7 linked regions of the Homo sapiens genome follow. The protein of the gene in region 5 purifies or fractionates together with the protein of the main gene of each other region. This does not show direct contact. Each region holds a gene or a part of one and is shown on either strand. Other genes may lie near its edges.

What was found.
Region 1: the proteins of GPR17 (region 5) and SLC33A1 purify together in Homo sapiens (co-immunoprecipitation; 2 studies listed by BioGRID and IntAct, with this or other methods). This does not show direct contact.
Region 2: the proteins of GPR17 (region 5) and TBC1D15 purify together in Homo sapiens (co-immunoprecipitation; 2 studies listed by BioGRID and IntAct, with this or other methods). This does not show direct contact.
Region 3: the proteins of GPR17 (region 5) and BTAF1 purify together in Homo sapiens (co-immunoprecipitation; 2 studies listed by BioGRID and IntAct, with this or other methods). This does not show direct contact.
Region 4: the proteins of GPR17 (region 5) and ARFGEF1 purify together in Homo sapiens (co-immunoprecipitation; 2 studies listed by BioGRID and IntAct, with this or other methods). This does not show direct contact.
Region 6: the proteins of GPR17 (region 5) and ABHD17B purify together in Homo sapiens (co-immunoprecipitation; 2 studies listed by BioGRID and IntAct, with this or other methods). This does not show direct contact.
Region 7: the proteins of GPR17 (region 5) and TMEM87A purify together in Homo sapiens (co-immunoprecipitation; 2 studies listed by BioGRID and IntAct, with this or other methods). This does not show direct contact.

What each region holds. Positions count from the first base shown.
Region 1 is NC_000003.12:155,847,928-155,851,427, forward strand, and holds part of SLC33A1 (acetyl-coenzyme A transporter 1), read right to left. Parts: intron 1-3,500. UniProt on the Homo sapiens protein: Acetyl-CoA transporter that mediates active acetyl-CoA import through the endoplasmic reticulum (ER) membrane into the ER lumen where specific ER-based acetyl-CoA:lysine acetyltransferases are responsible for the acetylation of ER-based protein substrates, such as BACE1.
Region 2 is NC_000012.12:71,842,759-71,846,258, reverse strand, and holds part of TBC1D15 (TBC1 domain family member 15), read right to left. Parts: intron 1-3,500. UniProt on the Homo sapiens protein: Acts as a GTPase activating protein for RAB7A. Does not act on RAB4, RAB5 or RAB6.
Region 3 is NC_000010.11:91,982,770-91,986,269, reverse strand, and holds part of BTAF1 (TATA-binding protein-associated factor 172), read right to left. Parts: intron 2,070-3,500; coding exon 1,866-2,069; intron 1-1,865. UniProt on the Homo sapiens protein: Regulates transcription in association with TATA binding protein (TBP). Removes TBP from the TATA box in an ATP-dependent manner.
Region 4 is NC_000008.11:67,337,282-67,340,781, forward strand, and holds part of ARFGEF1 (brefeldin A-inhibited guanine nucleotide-exchange protein 1), read right to left. Parts: intron 1-3,500. UniProt on the Homo sapiens protein: Promotes guanine-nucleotide exchange on ARF1 and ARF3. Promotes the activation of ARF1/ARF3 through replacement of GDP with GTP. Involved in vesicular trafficking.
Region 5 is NC_000002.12:127,644,952-127,648,952, forward strand, and holds the start of GPR17 (uracil nucleotide/cysteinyl leukotriene receptor), read left to right. Parts: upstream 1-1,201; 5' UTR 1,202-1,293; intron 1,294-2,695; coding exon of another isoform or gene 2,696-2,793; exon of another isoform or gene 2,794-2,888; intron 2,889-3,085; exon of another isoform or gene 3,086-3,644; intron 3,645-4,001. UniProt on the Homo sapiens protein: Dual specificity receptor for uracil nucleotides and cysteinyl leukotrienes (CysLTs). Signals through G(i) and inhibition of adenylyl cyclase. May mediate brain damage by nucleotides and CysLTs following ischemia.
Region 6 is NC_000009.12:71,869,694-71,873,193, reverse strand, and holds part of ABHD17B (alpha/beta hydrolase domain-containing protein 17B), read left to right. Parts: intron 1-2,931; coding exon 2,932-3,111; intron 3,112-3,500. UniProt on the Homo sapiens protein: Hydrolyzes fatty acids from S-acylated cysteine residues in proteins. Has depalmitoylating activity towards DLG4/PSD95. Has depalmitoylating activity towards GAP43. Has depalmitoylating activity towards MAP6. Has depalmitoylating activity towards NRAS.
Region 7 is NC_000015.10:42,209,947-42,212,190, reverse strand, and holds the end of TMEM87A (transmembrane protein 87A isoform 1 precursor), read left to right. Parts: intron 1-441; coding exon 442-483; 3' UTR 484-1,744; downstream 1,745-2,244. UniProt on the Homo sapiens protein: Potential monoatomic ion channel gated by mechanical force, implicated in normal touch sensitivity through the generation of mechanically activated currents.

The sequences.
Region 1 (3,500 bases), on a different chromosome or scaffold from region 5:
ACTCTAATATCTTTAGCTTCCTTCTCTGTCATTAAACCGTCTTGCTCCCTGCTCCTAAACCCAAATACACTGCTCCCTATTCCAATCACTTCTAATTGTTACTACTGCTGCTAGAGGAGAGGGCCTCAATTACCAGTTTACAGGCTAGATCTGGCCTGAAGACATAGATTAGATAGATGACAGATAGAGAGATGATAGATGAGACAGATTTTTTTAAAGATGGGTCTTGCTATGTTGCCCAGGCTGCAGTGCAGTGGTTATTCACAGACACTATTATAACGCATTGCAGCCTCGAACTCCTGGCCTCAAATGATCTTCCCATCTCAGCCTGTCAAGTGGCAGGAACTACAGATGCGTGCCACTGTGCTCAGCTAAAGACATGTTTTTATATGAGCCTAAGAAGTGTTTGTAAAATTAGGAAATAAAAAAGGAATTTCTAGTTTCTCTTGAATATGCCTAAGATCTAGCAATCTTGCCGGGCATGGTGGCTCCCACCTGTAATCCAAGCACTTTGGGAGGCCGAGGCAGGCAGATCACAAGGTCAGGGGATTGAGACCATCCTGGCTAACATGGTGCAACCCTGTCTCTACTAAAAATACAAAAAATTAGCAGGGCATGGTGGTGGGCGCCTGTAGTCCCAGCTACTCGGGAGGCTGAGGCAGGAGAATGGTGTGAACCCTGGAGGTGGAGCTTGCAGTGAGCAGAGATCGCACCACTGCATTCCAGCCTGGGCAACAAAGTGAGACTCTGTCTCAACAACAACAAAAAAAGAAGATCTAGCAATCTTGGGATCCTATTGTCACAAAACTACAACTTACTAGAGTTGACGCTCCTCACCTTTAGAGGGGCATGGATTTCTCAAATTATCTCTGTCCCCTCCAACTCAGATGACTCATTTACATTATCTATCTACCCAATATATTCCATCTCCATTTATCTGTAACAATCAAAACTGTTAATTACAGATAGTATTTCATTTATTTTTTATTTATTTATATTTTTGGAGATGCAGTCTTGCTCTGTCACCCAGGCTGGAGTGCAGTGGTGTGATCTCGGCTTACTGCAGCCTCCACCTCCCCAGTTCAAGTGATTCTAGTGCCTTAGCCTCCCTGAGTAGCTGGGATCACAGGTATGCGCCACCACACCCGGCTAATTTTTTGTATTTTTAGTAGAGCTGGGGTTTCACCATGTTGCCCAGAGTGGTCTTGAACTTCTGAGCTCAAGCAATCTGCCCACCTCAGCCTCCCAAAGTGCTAGGATTACAGGTGTGAGCCGCTGCACCTGGCCAGAACATATTTTAGAATTAAAAAAAGAAAACAATTACGCTTCCTTTTAATACTCAGATTTTCTAAACATTGCCTCAGTGTTTAGCTCCTCTTTAATCACCTAAGCAATTATATTTCCATCATATAATTCTTCCTGTGCTATATAACTTTTTCAAAACCACTGGTTTTTCTTATCCTATTAATAAGTTCCAGAAAGAACAATGTTATAAATGTGGTATGTTCAGTCATAAAAAGGAGAATGAAACTATAGGAATTCTAACTTTCAACTAAAATGTTTGAACCAGAAACAGCAGTCCACTACAGATATAAACAGTTGAATTAAAAAGTAAGCTAGTTATAGAATCTACTGCAGAACAAAGTTCAAATTCCACAGGAAAAAAAAAAAAAGGGGCAATTCAAAATAACAAGTGACAGCCAGGCACAGTGGCTCACACTTGTAATCCCAGCACTTTGGGAAGCCGAGGTGAGCAGATCACTTGAGGTCAGGAGTTCAAGACCAGCCTGGCCAACATGGCGAAACCCCATCTCTACCAAAAATACAAAAATTAGCCAGGCATGGTGGCACACGCTTATAATCCCAGCTACTAGGGAGGCTGAGGCAGCAGAATAGCTTGAGCCCTGGAGGGGGAAGTTGCAGTGAGCTGAGATCATACCACTGCACTCTACCCTGGGCGACAGAGCGAGACTCCATCTCAGAATAATAATAATAATAATAATAATAATAATAATAATAATAATAATAACAATTCACTGCCTAGAAATACTCTGTGAATGCATACTGTCTGTTATCAGTTTGTTGCTTTTTTCTTTTTTGAGATGGAGTCTTTCTCTGTCGCCCAGGCTGGAGTGCAGTGGCGCGATCTCAGCTCACTGCAACCTCCGCCTCCCAGGTTGAAGCGATTCCCCTGCCTCAGCCTCCTGAGTAGCTGAGACTACAGGTGCATGCCATCACACCGGGCTAATTTTTGTATTTTTAGAAGAGACAAGGTTTCACCATGTTGGCCAGGATGGTCTTGATCTCCTGACCTTGTGATCCTCCTGCCTTGGCCTCCCAAAGTGTTGGGATTACAGGCGTGAGCCAACGCGCCCAGCCAGTTTGTTGCTTTTTATGTGTCTGCTTTTCATTTTGTCCTGAGACTGCTGTTTATATCACCACAGAGGATTAAGGAGATGATGTTACTTAAGATGAGAAAGCCTCAGTGAAATCAAGGTTTAAGAGGCCATGGAAACTAAATTGCTAATTAGCTAAATTGGAACTTTCTCTTAATGTAAGAGTGATTGGTAAAACATCATTCCAGAGAATAATGTTATGAGTTCAAGAGTTATTATATTTATACTCCCTTAGCCACAACTGTTCCCTAATGGATCAAAATTATGCCACTGGATTTTAATTTACACTGACTTATTCTTTTTTTTTTTTTGAGATGGAGCCTTGCTCTGCCGCCTAGACTGGAATGCAATGGTGCGATCTCGGTTCACTGCAACCTCTGCTTCCTGGGTTCAAGCGATTCTCCCCACCCAGCCTCCTGAGTAGCTGGGATTACAAGTGAATGCCACCACTTCCACCTAATTTTTGTATTTTTAATAGAGAAGGGGTTTTGCCATGTTGGCCAGGTTGGTCTCAAACTCCTGATCTCAGGTGATCTGTCCACCTCAGCCTCCCAAAGTGCTGGGATTACAGGCGTGAGCCACTGCACCAGCCTTGACTTCTTTATTTTAATTTTATTTTTAATTAATTAATTTATTTTGGCTGGGCGCAGTGGCTTACGCCTGTAATCCCAACACTTTGGGAGGCCGAGGTGGGCGGATCACAAGATCAGGAGATCGAGACCATCCTGGCCAACACAGTGAAACCTTGTCTGTACTAAAAATACAAAAATTAGCTGGGTGTGGTGGCACATGCCTGTAATCCCACTACTCAGGAGGCTGAGGCAGGAGAATGGCTTGAACTAGAGAAGTGGAAATCGCAGTGAGCTGAGGTCCTGCCACTGCACTCCAGTCTAGTGTCAGAGGGAGACTCCATATAAAAAATACATATATATAATTTTAAGACAGGGTTGCACTCTGTTGACCAGGCTGGGGTGCAATGATTGGATCATAGCTCACTGAAGCCACAATCTCCCGGGCTGAAGCAATCCTCCTGCCTCAGCCTCCTGAGTAGCTAGGGTTACAGGCCTTCGCAAAACACCCAGCTATTTTTTTTTTTTTTTTAAT
Region 2 (3,500 bases), on a different chromosome or scaffold from region 5:
TATAAAACTTCCAATGATGGCCTGCTGAAAGCAACAGAAACTGTATTTTGTTTTTCTCCTCTAGCAAAGGAGCTATGTCAGATATACCTTATTAAAAGAGTTCTGGTGACCACAGCAAACATTTTAGAATAAATTTTCTCACCTCTAATTTAGCAAAAGTTTTAATTAAAAAGCAAAAATGAGGCAGAAAAACAGATAAATTCAACTTTTAGACAGAATGAACTTTTGCACAATCCAACTCAAGAACATCCTTCCTGACACAAAGAGCTGGAAAAAATAAGGAAGTTTCACAATACAGTAGTAATTTTTTATACTGTCCCTACACTTAATACTGAATTTTTACTTATATTATGATTATTATAATTTTTATTTATTTCCAAAAATGGAAGATAAAGGAAAAATTCAACCCAAATATTTTAAATGTAGCAGTAAGTTCAGGGTAAAATTATTGCCCTAAATCATTCTCCAAACTTGGAAACCCATCACCTATCATACACAACATGCATTCTTAACTTTAGCAATTATGTGAACTTACAGGCTAATATAACAACCAAAAAAGGTACAAAAGTTCAGTTTCTTTCAAAACTATTTGGCATACAGATGATAATTTGAGCATATGGTTCCAGAAAGCATCCCCAGGAAATGCGAGACTGAGCATCCTAATGGGCTCCACACCCAAATATCTAAGCACCTACTTGGTATCTCCATTTCAATAAGGCATCTTAATCTCATGTGTTCTATCTAAACCTGCTCTTCTTCTATATTCCCAATTCTGTCAAAGATATCTCATCCACCCACTTATTCTAAATGCTTCTTTCACCATCCAGACCCTATAACCTAAGTCCCTCGAACCTTCTCCTCTGACACTGGCCCCTTATCATTTCTAGCCTAAGTCACTAAAATAACATTCTGATCTCTCTTCTTCTGATCTAGTCACCTTCCAATAATCTGCCTAAGGTGCATAATGTATAACCACTGCCCAAACTAACCTTTACAAAATGTCCATCTGGTTATACCACACAGGGGCTTAAAAATCTTCTGACTTCACCCTTTACCTCTACAGTGAGGCTATACTTCCTGATACTCCCCAACACATAAAACATTTCTGCCTTGGGCCATTGTGAACTCTGTTACCCAAAAGCTTTGTACCTTTTTTCAGGTGTATTCTGTTCCATCTACCTGGAACACCCTTTTATCCTTTCTCTCTGCAAATAACTTCTACTAAATCCTTCAGAAAAGAACATAAGCAATAGCCTGCCCAAATTCTTTGAACTACTCTCCATTCCACTTAATCTGATTTAGAAGTTTCTTTACTCATGCATTCAGCACATTTATGAGCACCAACCACATGCTGGAAATAAAAGGTGTCAGTGGCAAAAACACACACAAGGAAAAGTGTCTGACTAAACTAGCAGTATTATGTAAGCCAGTAAATCAATGTATATAGTAGAGTGTAATAGAGGAATGCAGAGAATCCTGAATGAGGTACCATTTTCAGTTACTTCTTCAATAAATATACAGTAAACGCCTACCATGTGCCAGGTACAGAGCAAGCTACTAGGTGTAAATAAGTAAGATTCAGTCACTGCCTCCACAGCAGTTACAATCTAATGGGATGACAAGAAAACAGACAATTACAACATGTAATTGTACCAACAGGCTGCCACAGCAAGCCCTAATAAATGCTATCTTACCTAGATTTAGGAGGCTCAGGCAGAGTGAGAATCAGGAAAACTTACTTAGAGCGACATATAAACTGAGATCTAAATAATGGCAATTTTAATTAGTAGAGGGTATAGGGAAGCAGAGGATATATGTTCTTAGCAGAGGATATATTTTATACAGAGCAGTAGTTCACTGCATGATTGAAACCCAAATACCAGAGAGTAGAGTCTAAATAGTTTAGAAACAAAAACAGAGACCAGATCAGATCATAAAGGGCTGCATAAGCCATGCTAAAGAATTTAGGAGTTTGAAATTTATCCTGAAGACAGACAAACGCAACTAGAAATTTGCCTTTTCTAAGCCAATAAAGTGGCTGCAGGGCCAAGAACGAACAGCTGCAGTAATCCAGAGAGGGAGAGACTCATGGTTGCTTGAACTAAGGCAATGGTAGTGGGGATGAGGAAAGGCAGATGGCTTAGAAAGATATTTAGAAGATCAAAATGACAAGACTTCATGACTGATTAGATGTGAGAGGTGAAGGGGAGAACAGTCAAGGACAAAACTGTGTAGATGAGGTTATTTACTGAGAGGGAGAACAGAAAGAAGAAAGCTGAGTTTTATTTGGGATGTGTTAATGAGTAATGACTATGGAACTAAAAAAAATGCACAATACAGGTGGTTGTAAGGGCAATACATCACAGATAGTCTGAAGTGAAGAATGTTTTGAGATATAGAGAATGGTACAACTCTCAAGGAAGAGCAACTGGCAGAACTATTATTGCTTCTCAAGGATATTGGTGTGCCAAGCGAAGTCAGATAGGAGACGTGAATAATTTAAGAGTTGGAGGAGATACACAGTCAGCGCTGCAATGAACCATGATCACACCACTGCACTCCAGCCTGGGTGACAGAGCAAGACTGTCCCAAAAATAAATTAACAATAATAATAATAATAATACAAGTCTGTGTTTAACCACCCTTGTATCCAAAGAACTCAGCACATAGGAGGTACTAAAACGTTTGTTGAACTAAAGAATGCCAGAAAAATTTAAAAATAAGACATACTCCTATTATACCCTAGTTAACTACCATGTTAAAAGATCCAGTCTAGGAAAACAAGTCTCCAGGAAAATCTAGATACTAAGAATATTCATCTTTCTAAAGCACAAAAATTTTATAGGACTATGAGCATATTTAAAAAGAATTGGTTAGGGCCAATTTTAAGCTACAAAATAAATTGTTACTAAAAATGACATCACAAATTCTAATTAAGAAAAAAAAACAGCTGATTTCCCTATTGTTTCAAGTAATTTTCTTTTTCATTTTTTGAAACACAGTATGCCCTTCGCCCAGTCTGAACAAGTGGCACAATCTCAGCTCACTGCACTGGTTTCAAGCGATTCTCCTGCCTTAGCCTCCTGAGTACCTGGGACTACAGGCGTGTACCACCATGCCCGGCTTTTGTATTTTTAGTAAAGACAGAGTTTCACCATGCTGGCCAGGCTGGTCTCAAACTCCCGACCTCAAGTAATCCACCCACCTCAGCCTCCCAAAGTGATGATTACAAGCATGAGCCACCGTGCCCGGCCAGTAATTTTCAATAGAAAGAAATTCTAATACACTAACAGGAAAACCTAGAGTGAATGAAGTGTACTACAATAGGATTTTACAACTCTGAAACAAAAGAGCTATTAATGGACCCATTTCTCCCACTCTAATCCCTCCTCATTTTCTTTTTCTTTTCTTTTTTTTTTTTTTTTTTTGAGACAGGGTCTTGGTCTGTCACCCAAGCTGGAGTGCAGTAGCACCATCATAGCTCACTGCAGCCTCCAAGT
Region 3 (3,500 bases), on a different chromosome or scaffold from region 5:
CTTATATAACTTCAGTTGGTTTTTGACAAAGGTGCCAGAACAATCCAATAGGGAAATGAAAGTATTTTCAATAAATAATGCTGGAAAAATTAGATATCTGTAAGAAAAACAAACCTCAACCTCTACTTCATACTATACACAAACATTAATTCCAAATGAATGATAAATCATAAAAACTAAATGACAAAACTTCAAAAGAAAACATATGTGAATACCTTTGCCACTTGGAAAGTTAAAAAAAAAAAAATTACTGAAGTCACACAACATAATAGCCATGAAAGAAAACAACTGATAAATTAGAATTCACCAAAATTTAAAATATCTGCTCATCCAAAGACAGCATTAAGAGAATCAAAAGGCAAACCACTCACTGCCAGAAAATATTCAGAAAGCATCTACTTGACAAAGGATTGGAATCCAGGATACATAAAGAACTCCCACAACTCAATAACAAACAAACAACCTAATTCAAAGTAGACAAGATTTTGAAAAGATATTTCAGAAAGGAAAATATACAAATGATCAATAAAAAATTAGAAAGTATTCAACATATTAGTCATCAAGGAAATGGAAATTAAAACCACAATAACACTATCAGACAATCACTAAAAGAACTGACCACATCAAATATTGATGATGTGGAGTAACCAGAACTCTCACATACTGATGGTCAGAGGGTAAAATGATACAATCTCTTTGGGGAAAAGTCTGTAGTTTTTTCTAAAACTAAACCTACACCTATCTTATGATTTAGCAATTCCACTCCTACATATTTACCCAAGAAAAATGAAAGCAGATGTCCACAAAGACTTGCAGAAGAACGTTTATAGTGACTTTTTTCACAACAGACAAAAAGTGGTAACAGCCAAAGTGTCCATAAACGGGAGAATGGCTTAAACTAGTTGTGGTATAATAATACAATGAAATAAAACTCAAGCAATAAAAAAAATAAGTTATTGATATATATATATATAACACAGATTAGTTTCAAAAATACCATTCTAAGAAAAATCCTTACACCAAAGAGCACAGTGTATGATTTCATTTACATGAAATTCTAGAACAGGCAAAAGTAATGTATCTTCGGGGGGGAATTAGAATAATGGTTACTCGGTGGCAGGGAGAGGCAGAGATTACTGGGAAGTGGTGATGATAATGTTCTGTATCTTGACAGTGGTTCAGGTTTCATAGGCATATGCATCTGTCAAAATTCACCAAATGGTCCACCTAAGATTTGTGTGCTTTAGCACATAAATTTTTCCTCAGAACAGCAAAAAAAAATAAACAAATACTGAATTTTAGTTAATTATATAAAATCCTGAAGTATACTGATATCTGAAACTTACTTAGAAACGCATTTAAAAAAACTGCCCTGGATGGATTCATGGTTGGATAGAGAGGTAGGCAGGTGAATACGTATGTGATAAAGTAAATTAGGTAAAATGTTAACTATAAAATCTAGCTGTTAAGTATGAGTGTTATGTAATTTCATCACTTTTTCTATATGTTTGAATATTTTCATTATAGGCTGAGAGCAGGAAGAAGTACTCAGGAACTTGTAGAAGCAGTTTTTTCTATACTCTGCAGTGTTAAGCAAAACTGAAATGACAAAATATAATAGCTTTTTCTAATAAAGGTGCATTGATTTATCAGAATTTTGGTTTAAAAAAAATTCTTTGTTATTCTCTTATTTCAAGAAAAGCCTATACAATGAAATAACCTTTCTCAAGGGTAGAGATGACAGGCTACCAAGCCACATACAGACTCAACAAACTAATGTGTTTTTGTGATAAACATGTCATGACAAATTTCTAACCTATATTTCATGTTCTATCTCTAATTAAGAAAGTTATTTCTTTACTCACCAAGTCACTAGCTTGATCTATTGTTAAAACATTGTTGTTTACTCGATTACCAACTTCAATATGTACATCAGCTAATGATGATATAAGTTGTTTACATTCATTCTGCATTCGTGTGAATGGAACGGCAATTTCGTCATAATATAAATGTTCTGAAAGGATATCAAGTAAACGCGGCTGCACAGCTAAGGTAACAGCTTTACACTCCTAAAATACAACAGAAAACAAATAGGGTAACTGTATGAACATTAACTTTATAGATACAGAAATCGTCATTTGTAGACTACCAAGTTCTAAATTCTTACTTGTACTGAATCTATATTCTGTTACTTCTCCAAACAACAGTTAATTGCACAGAAAAAAAGGTATTACATCCAAATTATTGTAAAATTTTAACATGAATGACTACAGAACATGCACACAGAACTATTACAACTTCATTTTCTACCTATCCAAAGTTTACACGTGTATATATATCACAGATTTTAAAGTGTATTATGGTAAAAAAAAAAAAAATCAGAAAAGAAATCTATCAAGCACTAATTAAAAATGTTATTTAAAAACTCATTATTAGATAACAGTTGAACCCTAAGCTTCACATGCCATACTGTAAAAGTGGATATAAATTTTAAAAGCTACTTATCTATCCCCAAATTTAACTAACCCTTCCCACTCTCTCTGGTTGTTGCCTGCCCCAAACCAACAGGAAATGGCCTCAGTGGTGAGCCATGAGGGGTTCTGTGGCATCTCAGTTATCAGCCTGGGCTTCACAGAGTAAGTCCATGAAGCTCTGTGAGTGTCCAGAAACCTAACTGTCAACACTTGCTGCTAAGTCTGAGAGGCACAAAAACATAGCATCACTGCCTCTCCAGCACACCAACTCCTGCCTAAAAACAGATGAGCTTTGCTTCTTTCCAGAGGCCAAGCAGGGGTGTCAGCTGCAATGGAGCATGGCTCAATTACTTTTAGATACAGCTTTGACAAACTGCTAACAGGCAGTAACAAGTAACTCTCACAGCAAGTGCAGACAGTTAAATTTCCAGAATTCCAGTCAATGGAATAAACAAAGCCAGTAGAAAGTTTCTTTGATTTACAGAAGTATGTCTTATACAAAATCATACATCTCCCTAGAAGTTAACGGTTAAAGAGGCTGGAAGGGAATGGTTTATTTGGAAACATGAAGATTTTGGTTTAAATACAGAGATGTTATTCTTCCTGTGACCAAAAATTCTGCCTTTGCTACTACCCACACAGATGGATGTCTAATACTCAAAGCCTCATCCTTTGTAGTTTTCAGTGATACCTGAGTGACATATAGAGGAATGGATGACCAATAGTTTCTGGACTACTTTCACATATACGCGGTTTTTAATAGGGATATTTCTTAACAGACTGTACAGTCAACAGCAAATATTAAGTATGAGCATAACTAGTAGTTGGAAGTATGAGTAGGGGTTCTAAGACAAAAGTCCAGAGTTAAAAGTAAATGGGAGAGAAATAATCTTCAATATAATTTGGACACTTTTCTGTAACTCTTGGATTTTTATACATCGAAAATTTTCACTTTTCTGTTGTAAATAATCCTAACAGCTAATGGAAATTGGTTTACTTAATTTGTCTTTATTACTTTTGGGGCAA
Region 4 (3,500 bases), on a different chromosome or scaffold from region 5:
AAAAATCTATTTCCCAAAGGCTTTTTCTATCCTAGTGTCCCCCATTGAGGTGAATGCCATCTTCCTCTACCCTGAAGCTCTGGCTACAAGACTGGATGCCATCCCCTCTGTTAACCAACCCATCAGCAAATCCTGTGGATTCCAAAATATATTCCAAATGCACACAATTATCACCCTTTCCACCACCACCAACTTAGCCTAAGTCCCCATGGTCTCTGGCCACAGTGAGCCTTTAAAAACATAAACATGCTGTCACTAAAATCCCAAATCTGCCCACCCCCTCCCATCTTTCTCTCTGTCTCTCTCCCAGCCACACAAGCCTCCTTGCATCCTGAAACACACCAAGCACACATCCATCTTGCTATTTCCTGTTTCTATTTCATCCAAGTATCTGAAAGACTAAATCCCCCACTTATGTCACTTCTTTGCTCAAATGTCATCTCACAGATAGGACTTTCCTGACAACTCTAACTAAATCAGTACTCCCACCCTTTTCCCTTTAACCTTCTGAACTCTTTCTTCTGATGATATAAGGTTGTTACTATCACCCTCACCCCACTAGAATGTGTGTTCTATGAAAGCATGTTTGGTTCACTGCTGTATACCCAGCAATGAAGTAGTATCTGGAACATATGAGGAGTTCAACAAATATCTGATTGAAATATATACCTAGTTCGGAATGGCAACAATAACTTACTCATGTATTTTTCCTTTTCAAATATCTTCCTTCCTCCATTATGTGAGGAATATTATGACAAATATTTCCCCAAATTATTTCCCATTCACAATTTTCTCTCTAAGTTAAACCTTACCAAGAGACACAAATGAGTTACCTGCCCCTAGATGGGGTGGGAAAGAAAGCTAGTCAGCAAACAGTCCTCTGATCTCGATATTTCTACTGCTCCTTATTTCGGACTTTCTTCTCCTTCCCACACTATTAACACATCTACTACTTTCCCCAAACCTGTGTTTAGAGAAACACAGGTTTGTGCACTGATTTCCCCAAACCTCTTCTAGAAGATGGTCTCACCAGTAGTTAGGGTTATTGTACTTGTCTTTCTTTCCCCAGTGTCCCAAAGTAAGTTCCAAGGAACAACATATCCTAGGGGAGTTAACTGAGTTAGCAAACAATGAAAAAGGATCACATAAATTCAGGAAGAACTTCATTAAACAAAATTGAGCAGGTGTCTTTCTTGGAGGACTTTTCAGAATCTTAACTATGTTCATGTGCATTATAAATTTCCCAAATGGAAACAGATTACACACTATAATCCAAACTTATTTTTTCAACCCAAACTTATTTTCTTCAAAGAGCTTCTCTAAGAACTTGTACTCTGCAACATTTATTTCAGTCAACACTATTCTAGAGCAAGTGTCCTAAAAACAAATCTGAAATGTGAAAGAAAAGAACAAATACAAATAGGATCAATCTTTCGGTTATGTCATTAATTATACTCTTTTCTTCTACCCATCTCAAAAATTCAGGTAGCCTGGCTTACTGAAAACACCTTTTACTTTAGATATCAAAGAAGGCTTAAACGGAGATTTGTTAATGGATTTAAATTATAATTAAGGTGTTCACTGATGGCAGGATATTGTTTGGGGATAAATCATTTTTTCATAAATGGTGAAGAGTGATGAAAATTAATAGTTACCAAAAGTAGCATAAAACCAGGGCCCAAAGCATTCAAGTAATTTCCCCTCCACTGACGTATCTTTTTTATAACTCCACCAACAAAAATAAGGGTGGGATTAAAGGGGCAGAAGGAAGCAAGTTCTGAAAAGTTTGAGTCTCAATATTGTATCTCTGGATGAAACTATAATTACAGGTAATAGACTCTTATATAAGAAAACTAAGTCAGCAGGATCACTTTATAATATGATGAACAATATAAATTCATACCCTGTCTGATGCAAAAATTACTTCCCTAACAATTTTGTCTCCATTATTTTCCCATATACCTCCTGGGAACCCACCCTTATCACTGCCAGTATATGCCTCCCTTCCCTTTAAAACCTTCTTCTGGTCAGCTCTTCAACTTTTTCACTCTTATTGTGTATCAGTGACAGTTTCCAACCTTGAACTCTTTCATCCTAACATTTGCAGAGTATCTTCATAGATACTCTTCATTCGATGTCAGAAAGCATAAGCTGAACTAGTCACAACCCTAACATAAAAGAAACTCCTGAAACTTAGAGGCCTTACTGGAATAAGTCCCAACTGCACCCTCCCTAGCAGATAAACAATGCTACCTTCAAGCCCAATCCCACAACAATCCTAAATTCTTTGAAACTAAAAATAGCTCAGCTGTTGTCTCATCTGCCAGCAGATGGCCAGACTATTTTTAAGTCAGGATTCTCGAGAGCAGGAATGGATCAGGCTAAGCTAGGGCAGCCTAGACTCCCTCTCTCTGCAGAGAGCTGTAGTAGGGCAGGTACCAAAAGAGGGCAACCTGGAGCTGTTCCTGGGCCTGTGGGCTTCTTATCAGTTGTAACAGTGTAACAGTGTGGGGCGGGGGGGGGGATTCTTTCTTTTTTAACCATTCTTTACTTCAAAATGAAGTCTGACATAAGAAAATTTGAAAAACGTTTTACATTAACTCTGCATCCCTTTAAAGGTTTATTTTTCTTTCTGTGAAAATAAAAGTTCCTTGAGAAGTCTTTGAGAATGGATTGTTTTAATGAAGTAAAATTTCCCCTAATCTACATGCTGTTTCATAAGTTATACTTTTTGACAAAAAAAAAAGTTTTAAGAATACACAATAAGCTGTAATTTCATGAGTATAGTTTACAGAAAATCCATCTATAATTGGCCATATGTTAAAAGGTAGCTGAATTAATTTTGAATGGCAATACTCAGAAATCTACTCACATGCCAATACAATGATTTTCAAACAAAAAAGGATTAAATGTCTGACATACTATGTATTTTCCTGTTAACTGTCCATCTCCCTTCAGCTGTATGCTCAATAAATATTTGGGGAAAGAATGAAGACAGACAGGTGGGTATTTAGAAGGGTTATAACACCACCCACAAAATGATCTCTGTATCTTCACCATCCAACACCTACCCACTCACAATCTATAGAACCGAGAGGACTAAATCAGGCCTTTTCAGTTTGCTTTCCCATCCTGCTTAATGGCCACATAGATTACCAACAGACCAGAGCGGGCCTGGCCCAGGTCTCAATAGTGAAGTGGAGAAGATAAGTCTCTAACGGTCTTCAAGGACAATACATTTGTGGGAATACCATCTTCCTGCAAAATATACTTTCTGCAAAGACAAAATGAGTTATGCTTATCAATTTATGTTTGGGTGGTGATGTAGATAGACTGCAAGGGAAGAAACAAAGTTCACCAGGGATTAGCTACCATGAGATTACTGAGATTTTGCTTTGTTGGAGGCTAAATGTAACTTTACGAAATGTGGGAAAAAATGCCTCATACATCTCAAGTAAATAAAGTACTGTGGTGCCTAGCCCTTCCCTGGATAGTCACAT
Region 5 (4,001 bases):
AACAGCTTCTCAACAGACCAGATCACAGCATCAGATCTAAAGGTGGCCTTCAGAATTCTTTTTCAGGTTGAATTAGGATCAAATCTAAGAATTCTAAATTCAAAATGCAGCAGAAAAACAAAACACACACACACACGGAGCCTAAGTTCTGGAGTGACATGTGCTTGGGTTCAAATCCTGGCTCTGTTGCTTCCTACTGTTTGTTGATGGGTGAGTTTCTTCATTTGCCTGAGCCTCAGTTTCCTTGTCTGTAAAATGGGGCAATAATCCCAGCTGCACAGGGTGATGTGAAGAGACAAATTTAAGACACTGCCCCTTAAATGCTAGCCACATACATACAGTTTTCAATGTTTAAACAACAAAATGTAAAGTCTTTTGAAACCAGGAAGGGTGATTTGGTTTCCCATGTTGCTGGATGTATCATTTTCAGAAAGACAGAGAGAAATGAACTTTGTTCACTCAGTCTCAGAGGCGGCCGCCGGCAGCATTCAAAGGCACCCCAGCCCGGAGCCACCCCAGGGAGGAGCCCCAGGCCAGCGGTCAGATTCATGGGCTTCCGTGCAGAAGGGGAGCTGCACCGGCGAGCACCCGGCCTCTGAGCTGAGCCGCATCCTCACGGACAGGACAGCGCCCCATTATGAGGCTCCTGCAGCTGTTCCTCGCTCCAGATAAAGGCCATGATTTATTCTGTGTGCCCAAATGGGGCCTCATTATACAGGGCAGGACACAAGGACCCTACAGCAAGTGTCCTCAAAGAGTCGCCTCTCACTCCGTGAGCAAGACTCCTCGGCCTCCCACCCTCCGTTCACAGGCCCCCTCCGCCGTCTGCGGGCGCAGGCCTGGGAGCGCCGCCTGTTGCCATGACAGCCGGCCCCTCCCTGCCCCCCATCAGTAGGAAATCATCCCCTTCTGAAACGTCCTGTTGTGTCCCTCAGCTCCAGCCCAAGCCCCCCACCCAGCCCCCGCCTGCTCTGAGTCTCTGAGACAGTCACACACTCAGACTATGTGGCCAAGCTGGGGGCGGGGGGCATGGGCTAGGGACACACTAGAATATTCACGCTCCGGTGGCAGCAGCAGCAGCAGCCAGAGGAGCAGCCCGACACAACAAGGGACCCCTCAGGAATGAAGCAGCCTTTCAGGGCCAGAGGGGCTGTGGTCTCCCTTCCTCTCCTTAAATAGCCAGCGTTCCACCCACAGCGGCAAGGAGCCCCCTGCCACCACCGACACCCACGGGCGGAGATCACCTGCTGCCCCGCAGACCCCTGTCCCTTCCTCCCGGACCAGCAGCTAGAGGTAAGGGGCAGGCTGGGTGGGGTGGACTGGGAGCCCAGGGCTAAGCAGAGGAAACACTCAGCGGGGAGCCCTGCCCAGGGAGACAGGCAGCAGCCTGTCTCGTCCCATCTCTTTGGTGATGGTCTGACCTGTGCATCGAAGGCTGACCACAGTCTGAATTCACAGCAGCCCACAAAGCGGTGTTTCGTCCCTCTGATGGGGGCTTGCAGAGGGGAAGTGGCTTGCCGGCAGTCCAGGCTGCAATGACAGCACCGCTGCCCCTAACCATTAGGCAGCCTTGACCCATAGAGGAGCCAGATGCCTGGGAGAGGGCTCGGGCCAGGGATGGAGTGGCGCTAATGCAAAGGAAACTGCCACCACCTGGCCATGGCGCTGCCACCACAGGCCCTCCCCGAGGCCACACATGCCCACCTGCCACCTCCACAGAGGCCTATGACCTGTCCTAGATGCTCGACTCACCCACAGCCACGGGACCCAACACTGCCCAGGCCCCGGCCCATGCCACGCCCTTTCCTCTTACGGACACCGGCTCGGTGGCCGTCTGACCAGTGAGTCGTGAGGAACCAGCGAGTCTAGACTGAAGTTTGTGTTTCTAAAGGGCAACAGAGAGTGAAGCGGGGCCCATCTCAGACCAAACTGCAACAATCAGTATCAGAACTCCTCAAACGGGGGACAGAAAGGGAGAAGAAACCTCAGCAAACCTGAAACCAACCAGAAAGCTGTTTAAAATGGAGTCTCAGTCCCAGAGAGAGCGAGGGGCACGCCCTTCGGCCCGGGCAGGAAGTGGAGGGCAGTGCCCAGGCTGAGGCCCCCGGGCTGGAGGCAGGAGGCACCACAGGCCCACCTGGTGCCATGAGATATGCCACCCCTGCCGTCACTCAGGGCCCTGAGCCCAGTAACACTCTGCCGTCACTGTCCTGAAACTCTTCCTTTTTGAGCAAGGGGCTGCACATTCTCATTTCATACATGGGCCCCTAAAATGAGGGAGTGGCCCCAGGGCCAGGAGGGGGTGCTGAGCCTGGGAGACAACTCCATGGCAAACTCTGAGACTGAGTCACACTCCCCACCCTGGCGGTCTTCCAGGGAGTGAGACCGTTTCCCCGGTCTCACTTCCAGCTCCAGGGCCAATGTCCCCTGGTCAAGTGACCTAAGACAAGTTAGCAGACACTCAGCCTTGACTCCCTAACCTGCAACATGGGGCTAAAACTGGTTTGAGCCAGCACAGGCAGGCCCCCACCATGCCAGGCAGAGTGGTCAGTCGTACCTATGAGCTGCTCTCTCGTGGGGCCAGGTGATGCCTGCACTGTGGGGCACAGCACAGGCCTGAGGGACAGCCTGGGGTGGAGGGCACCCACCTTGGCCCCTTCCCACCCCCAGGTTCTAACAAGGGCCCCTCACTCACTGGGCCCCCTCTCCTCTTCCAGTCTCCAGGGCCTCCCCGCACACACCTTCCTCCTCTCCTGCCAACCTGAAAACAGCACACCTGTGTGCCCCTCCCATCTACCATGGGCTGTCCTCTCTGCTTGCCCATGCGTCTGCCCTGGAGCCCTGTTCCTCCAGTCTCCGGGTCCTCACCCCCAGCACATGCAACACGACACCCTCAAAGTCATGGGCCCCCCTCCCCTGCCACCGTCCCACCGGTACCTGCTCCCTGTTCTCCCCTGCCTCACAGGCCCTGTCAAGGGCTGTGTTCCTCCCTCCTTTTACCTCTCCTCCACAGCCCCCTTCACAGCCCTCAGCCCTTCCCCAGGGCTTCAGCCAAGCCTGTCTCCCTCTCCCAAGCATCACTCACCCCGCCTTCTTCGGCCCTCAGCTCTCCGCCCTCACCGTGGTTTTAGCAGTCCTAGGGAAAGTGCCAGCCGAGACCAGCCAGACCAAGTCAGAGTACTGTGGAACCTGGATTCCTGGGGAATGGGGTCCCCATGAGGAACTCCACATTGGACTAAGAACAGACCCTGTTCCTGGAAGCAGCAGGAAACCATCTCTGGTGTTAGAACTTCAGGCATCTTGAAACACTCTGAAGCCGGGGGCAATCTTTTCAGGTAGGGGAACCTGCCTAGAGAAATAGCTAAAAGGTAATATTATTAGGTAGTTGCCCTCCCCTTTGCTTGAGGACATTGATGGCCAGGTGCTCGGGCCAGCCCTCACCCTCCATGTGAGGGCCACAGCAGCTGGCCACTCGCTCTCCTGAAGGAAGGGTGCGGCCCACCCTTCCCTAGGGCTAGGGCCACCACCATGCCTGCTTCTCCTCCATATGAGGATGGCTCCAGCCTCCTCCTCGAGGGGCTGCTGTGTCCATGAACAGTCACCATGCCCTCTCTGCCCCGTGCCACCAGCATCCTGAGACAGCCCTGTGGAATCAGTAAGAGGAGAGGGGCTGGGCGCAGTGACTCATGCCTGTAATCCCAGCACTTTGGGAGGCCAAGGAGCACTTTGGGAGGCCAAGGAGAGAGGATCACTTGAGCCCAGGAGTTTGAGACCAGCCTGGGCAACATGGCAAAACCGTCTCTACCAAAAAATACAAAAATTAGCCGGGTGTGGTGGTGTGCGCCTGTAGTCCCAGCTATTCAGGAGGTTGAGGTGGGAGGATCACTTGAGCCCTGGAGGTTGAGGCTGCAGTGAGCTGATTGCACCACTGCACTCCAGCCTGGGTGACAGAGGGAGACCTTGAAAAAGAGAAAGAAAAAAAGAAAAAAGAGAGGGAGGGG
Region 6 (3,500 bases), on a different chromosome or scaffold from region 5:
ATATAGGCTATTCTTTATATTATATGAAAATAAAATATCTGACTTCCAGGATGTTTTAGACTGAAGCTATAGGATATAAAGAAAACTTACTGTTTCTAATTTAATGTTTAAATATTAAAGATTTCATTTAGTCAGGAAAAATTTCCTCAATTTTAATAATAAAGTAGTTAATATTATTAAAGATATTAAAAATATCTTTAAAACTATTTTTCCCTCCAAAGAAATGTAATAAAGTTATGCTCTCATAGCGAAGTTCTACATAAAAGGGATTCTTAAAATCAACTGAAATTATATAAAAACATAAATATGGGGAATAAGGAAAAAAAGATGGCAAGTAGTAGGTAAAGAGTTGATGGGGGATGGTAAAGTTATTGTTTAATTGATAAATTAAAAACTGCTTTAAATAAAAATCTTTTACATATATTGATATCAGTTCCATCAAGCCTTAAAACAAACAGAAACTGAGTGCCCACTTTTTAGAGTCAGTCAGTTGAATAACGTATAACAACTATAAGAAAGTATTATAATTAAAAAAATAGCTTTATTGAGTGATAAGGTTCACACTTTTAAAGGTTAACTTCAGTGGAATAATGAAGTTTTAAAGGGTGCTAAGTTAAAACTGATAGCCAGCTTTCATTATTAGTGCTTCCCAGTAACGCAAAAGGGTCACTTTACTCAAACAAAACATGTTAGTATTCAGTTCAGTGTTCTGTGTCTATATGAAAAAATCCCATTTTTTAAGTGGTCAACTTTACTGTTTTTTTCTTTTCTTTTCTTTTAATCTTGGCATTTACCAATTTGAAGAAAACTTTGAAAAATGATTTTCAGCCTTAATTTTTTTAACATATTTGATAGCCAGTGTTAATCAGGAATGGGCAGATTTCATCAATAATCCCACATACTATTTTAGCACTTATATTTTAGAATTTTAGACCTGTGTTTTCTTTCGTGTTGAAACCAAAATATAGTTGGAGTTTCATAAGTGTAGGTACTTTAGGAAATATTACTTCTCTGAGCCTGTGTTTCCTCATCTGTTTAATGAAGAGATTGAATTAAATGATCCCCAAGATCTTTTCCAATTCTGGAATTCTGTCATCTAATGAAATGTGTGTAATTAGAATACATGCCTTTTATTTTATTTGCCTGATTAAAAGTTAGGACTTAAGTAACCAGGAGAGAGAAAATAAATAATGAACTTAAATAATGTTCATTTTTGGGATGAATGAACATTGGAATGTCCTTTTTGGGAAAATTGGATATCCATAATAACTCCAATTTCTGACCTTCTGATGGACCAAAAGAAACTCGGGGCCTGGCATTCACTATGCACCTTTCCCACAAAGTCCTTGAGTTCCTCATCTGTGTGCTTCAGAGGTAAAAAACACTGAACTGGGAGTCAGTATACCTGGGTTCTAATTATAGAGCTGTCATCTACTGGTGACTTTGAAGATCTGCTCATTAGGCAGCTGGACTCTAGATTAGATGGTCTCTAAACTCCTTTCTAGCTCATACTGTTAGGCAGTTGTTACTCTTGTGAGTCCCCTCATGCTTAATTGTCAGCTACCTCTGCGACTCTATCCTTGAGCATTGTCATTGCTAGCTGTAGCCCAAATTTCATGATTGCCACCAACAATGCTGATATTCAGCTGACAGCAACAATGCAGCCTCAAGAACTGTGGTCATGCTGCAAATGTTCATTCTCCTAATTTCTTCATTCGTATGAAATATGTGCAACTAGGTCTGTTGTAAAGAAAAAAGCTTTTCTGAGTTTGCTAATATTTAGAGTCAATTTGAAGTAGACAGAGCCCCACTTTCTGTGTCCTATACAAATGCTTGTGTAGTACTGACTTGAAGAAACTATATGGGGAGAGCTGTGTTACTACCTGTATAGTTGAAATAGTATTATGCCCCTGGAAGAGAACACACGGACAGTTTCCCTCGCTCTTTCCTGGTGAATATCCAGATTCTTAGAAAGATATTTTACCTTTGCAAAAGATTTCCAAAAGCAGCTGTTATGTTCTTAGCTGCCAGAGTGACTGCTGTCTGCCTTCTAAGTGGAAAGGTGTATTTAATGTCACTATAACCTTTAAGCCCACATTCATTAGCTCAGGTAGCACTGTACTTACACTTGCAGTAGTTTACATTTGGGATGATTATACTGTAGACAAGTAGCAAGCAGTTCCTTGAACATACTAGGTACCCAATAAATATTTATTGAGTCAATGAGTTTTCATCTATTTAAACCTGTGGCCATTTTAAAGGGATTAAAATAGTACCTTGTAATTTTAGCGTAAAGTCTAATCATAAATAATTGGACCATGTGGTGTTTGGAATTCTTTTTTATCTTTTCAACCATTAGTCCATTTCTACAACTAAGCAAAGATCAATTTTAAGAAAAATCGTAAAATCATAATTTGCCCTTTACTAAAACCATACATATATTCATTTCATACCATAACTATATGTAACAGTTCATCAATATGACCAATTTTGGAAATTAAAATGAGCCACTCTTGATGTGTGGAGAAATAAATAACTTTTGTTACACTGAACGGAAAATAAATATGACCTATTCATTCAACATCAGTTCATTAAAATATTAGTGATATGCCCCAAGCTTAGTCAGCAGTAAGCTAGGTTGAAATATTATAGTGTAATAAATTATTTAATAAATTTATTTCTTAAGATTGAAATCTTAAAATACCTCAGCAATTATTCTTCCAAAAGATGAAGTAGAGAAACACATGAAATAAACTGATGATACAGACTTTATTGTAATGTTAAAACTAACAGTAATAGCTAAGAAACTTAAGTTTAAAAAATGGATTAGTTGACATTGTCTTATTCTAAGATCAAATCCTTTGGAATGATGGAACATTTCATATCACTCCAACTTTTTTGGTTTTTGTTTTTAACGCCTGAACTTTGTAGATATGGCATTCGCCCTGAAAATGTGATTATATATGGCCAAAGTATAGGGACAGTACCGTCTGTGGATCTTGCTGCTCGATATGAGAGTGCTGCTGTTATTCTTCATTCTCCTCTGACTTCGGGAATGCGAGTTGCCTTTCCTGATACCAAGAAGACCTACTGTTTTGATGCATTCCCAAAGTAAGTAGCAATATTCAAAATAGTTAAATTCCAAGAAACTTGGGAATTTTTTCATCATTTAAAGTATTCATGACACAGTTCACTCAACCATAAACTTCATTTTATATATATTAGCACATAGAAATTATGAAAAATTAATTTGTAAAGAGGGTATTAGCAGGTGACCAGTCAGAAGGCTGAAATGTTTGAGGAGTAGTAATCCAGATGAAAATTGCTGAGGGCCTTACACCTCAGGTGGTGGCACTAGTATTGGAGACAAGGGAATTAATTTGAAACATAAATTTGACAGAACTGAGTATCAGACTGGGTGTAGGATGCTAAAGAGAAAAACTTGAACATGACTACCATGTTTCTGCCCTGAGGTGCTAATGGATAGGGCCATCCAGTGA
Region 7 (2,244 bases), on a different chromosome or scaffold from region 5:
AAAGTGTAGTAAAAAACACATAACAAATCAACCCTCCTAACCATTCTAAAGTGCAAAGTGCTAACTAGGTGCACGTCTTTGCCCTCATCCTTCACTGGGTCTTCAAGTGAAATTCCTGAATTAGAGGAGTTACACATTTTTATTAAAGCCTAATCTTATGTAAATATTTGTTTACATAAGATCTTAGCTGACTCTATACATTTCCTTCTGAGTGCTGATTTTCTGTCCAGAAGCCTAGAGCTTTTGATTTAGTTGTTCTTGGGTGAGGTCTGGACATCTGTATGTTCAAAATCTTCACAAATGTTTAGGAACCATTTCTCTAAACATTTAATTAACATAAAGTACTCGTGGAAGATGTTTGCTTGGATAGTCTGTATAGAAGATATTTGGAATATAGATCATTTTAACCTAATATACTTCAACCTTTTTTTTTTTCCCTAGGAACGAATGATCACACACTTTGAAAGGTCCAAAATGGAGTAAGGAATGGGAAGATTTGCAGTTAAAGATGGCTACCATCAGGGAAGAGATCAGCATCTGTGTCAGTCTTCTGTACGGCTCCATGGGATTAAAGGAAGCAATGACATCCTGATCTGTTCCTTGATCTTTGGGCATTGGAGTTGGCGAGAGGTGTCAGAACAAAGAGAACATCTTACTGAAAACAAGTTCATAAGATGAGAAAAATCTACGAGCTTCTTATTTACAACACTGCTGCCCCCTTTCCTCCCAGACTCTGACATGGATGTTCATGCAACTTAAGTGTGTTGTTCCTGAACTTTCTGTAATGTTTCATTTTTTAAATCTGACAAACTAAAAAGTTTAACGTCTTCTAAAAGATTGTCATCAACACCATAATATGTAATCTCCAGGAGCAACTGCCTGTAATTTTTATTTATTTAGGGAGTTACATAGGTGATGGGGGAAATTGTTAACTACCTTTCATTTTCCTGGGAAGTCAAGGTTACATCTTGCAGAGGTTGTTTTGAGAAAAAAGGGCCCTTCTGAGTTAAGGAGCCATAGTTCTATCAATGATCAAAAGAAAAAAAAAAAAAGAGAAACTGTTACAGTATGATTCAGATCATTTAAAAAAGCAAAATCAAGTGCAATTTTGTTTACAAATGGTGTATATTAAAGATTTTTCTATTTCAGATGTACTTTAAAGAGAAATATTAGCTTAACTCTTTTGACATCTGCTATTGTGACACATCCCATTGCTGGCAATGTGGTGCACACTCCGAAACTTTTAACTACTGTTTTGTAAGCCTCCAAGGGTGGCATTGCAGGGTCCTTAGGCAATGTTTTGTTTGCCTTTATGCAGAGAGGTGCTCCAAGTGCTGTGATTGAGCACCGTGCTAGAGGAACTGTAATGCTTCAGAAGTTGTAGCTTATACAAAGGAAACAGGTCCTGCTGGCTTAATTTAAACAGTTATTGCATGAAGTAGCGTGGAGGCCCTGGACTGCTGCTCGTTCTTTAGGATGGACTGTTCTGGTATCTGGTATTGGTTTAGAGACTGTTAATAAGGGACATCACAAGGTGATGGGATTCATTTGAAGCACTCTATTTCTGTTTTAATGGTTTTATCCAATTTTGCCTTCCCAAGATTTTTGTTCTACATAAAAAGTTCATGCCACTTTTTAATATAAAAAAATTTAACAAAATTAATGTATTTTTCTCATTTTTTTCAAACTTTTTCTAAAGACTCTTTCTGTCAAACTCATGAAAAATTTCTTTCTATGGCTTTTATTCTAGATTGTCTTATTTTCTGTTAAAACCAATGACCACATGACCACAATCTTCACTAACTCATACTGCAGTGAAAGTGTTAACCCTTAGGTAGTTTCTCTACAACTCTTTGCTATGGTGATTTTTAAAAAAGTTTCCTAGGAAGTATCTCTGAGGAACAGCAATCTGAAGAACTGACTATATTCTCATGCTAAGTCATTAGCCAAAAGCTGGTGGTATTGTTGCATGCTGCTATTGCATATTAAAACGTAGCAGATGAATAATAGTTGTAATGCAGCAGGATAGTTGGTCAAATTATTTTTTTAGGCTGCTTTGATGTTGACTTGAGACTAGGAAAAAAAAAAGCCCATTGTGTTAAGCGGGAGTGTATAGTTCAAGTTCTATAGCCTGGGCCCTGATAATTCTACTTACAGCTTTCTGTATTACTGGGAATAGATATAGTGTGTCATTTCTTAGGTTCAGAAGAAATTGATAGCTTTGCAGTAATCTGTAAAACAATA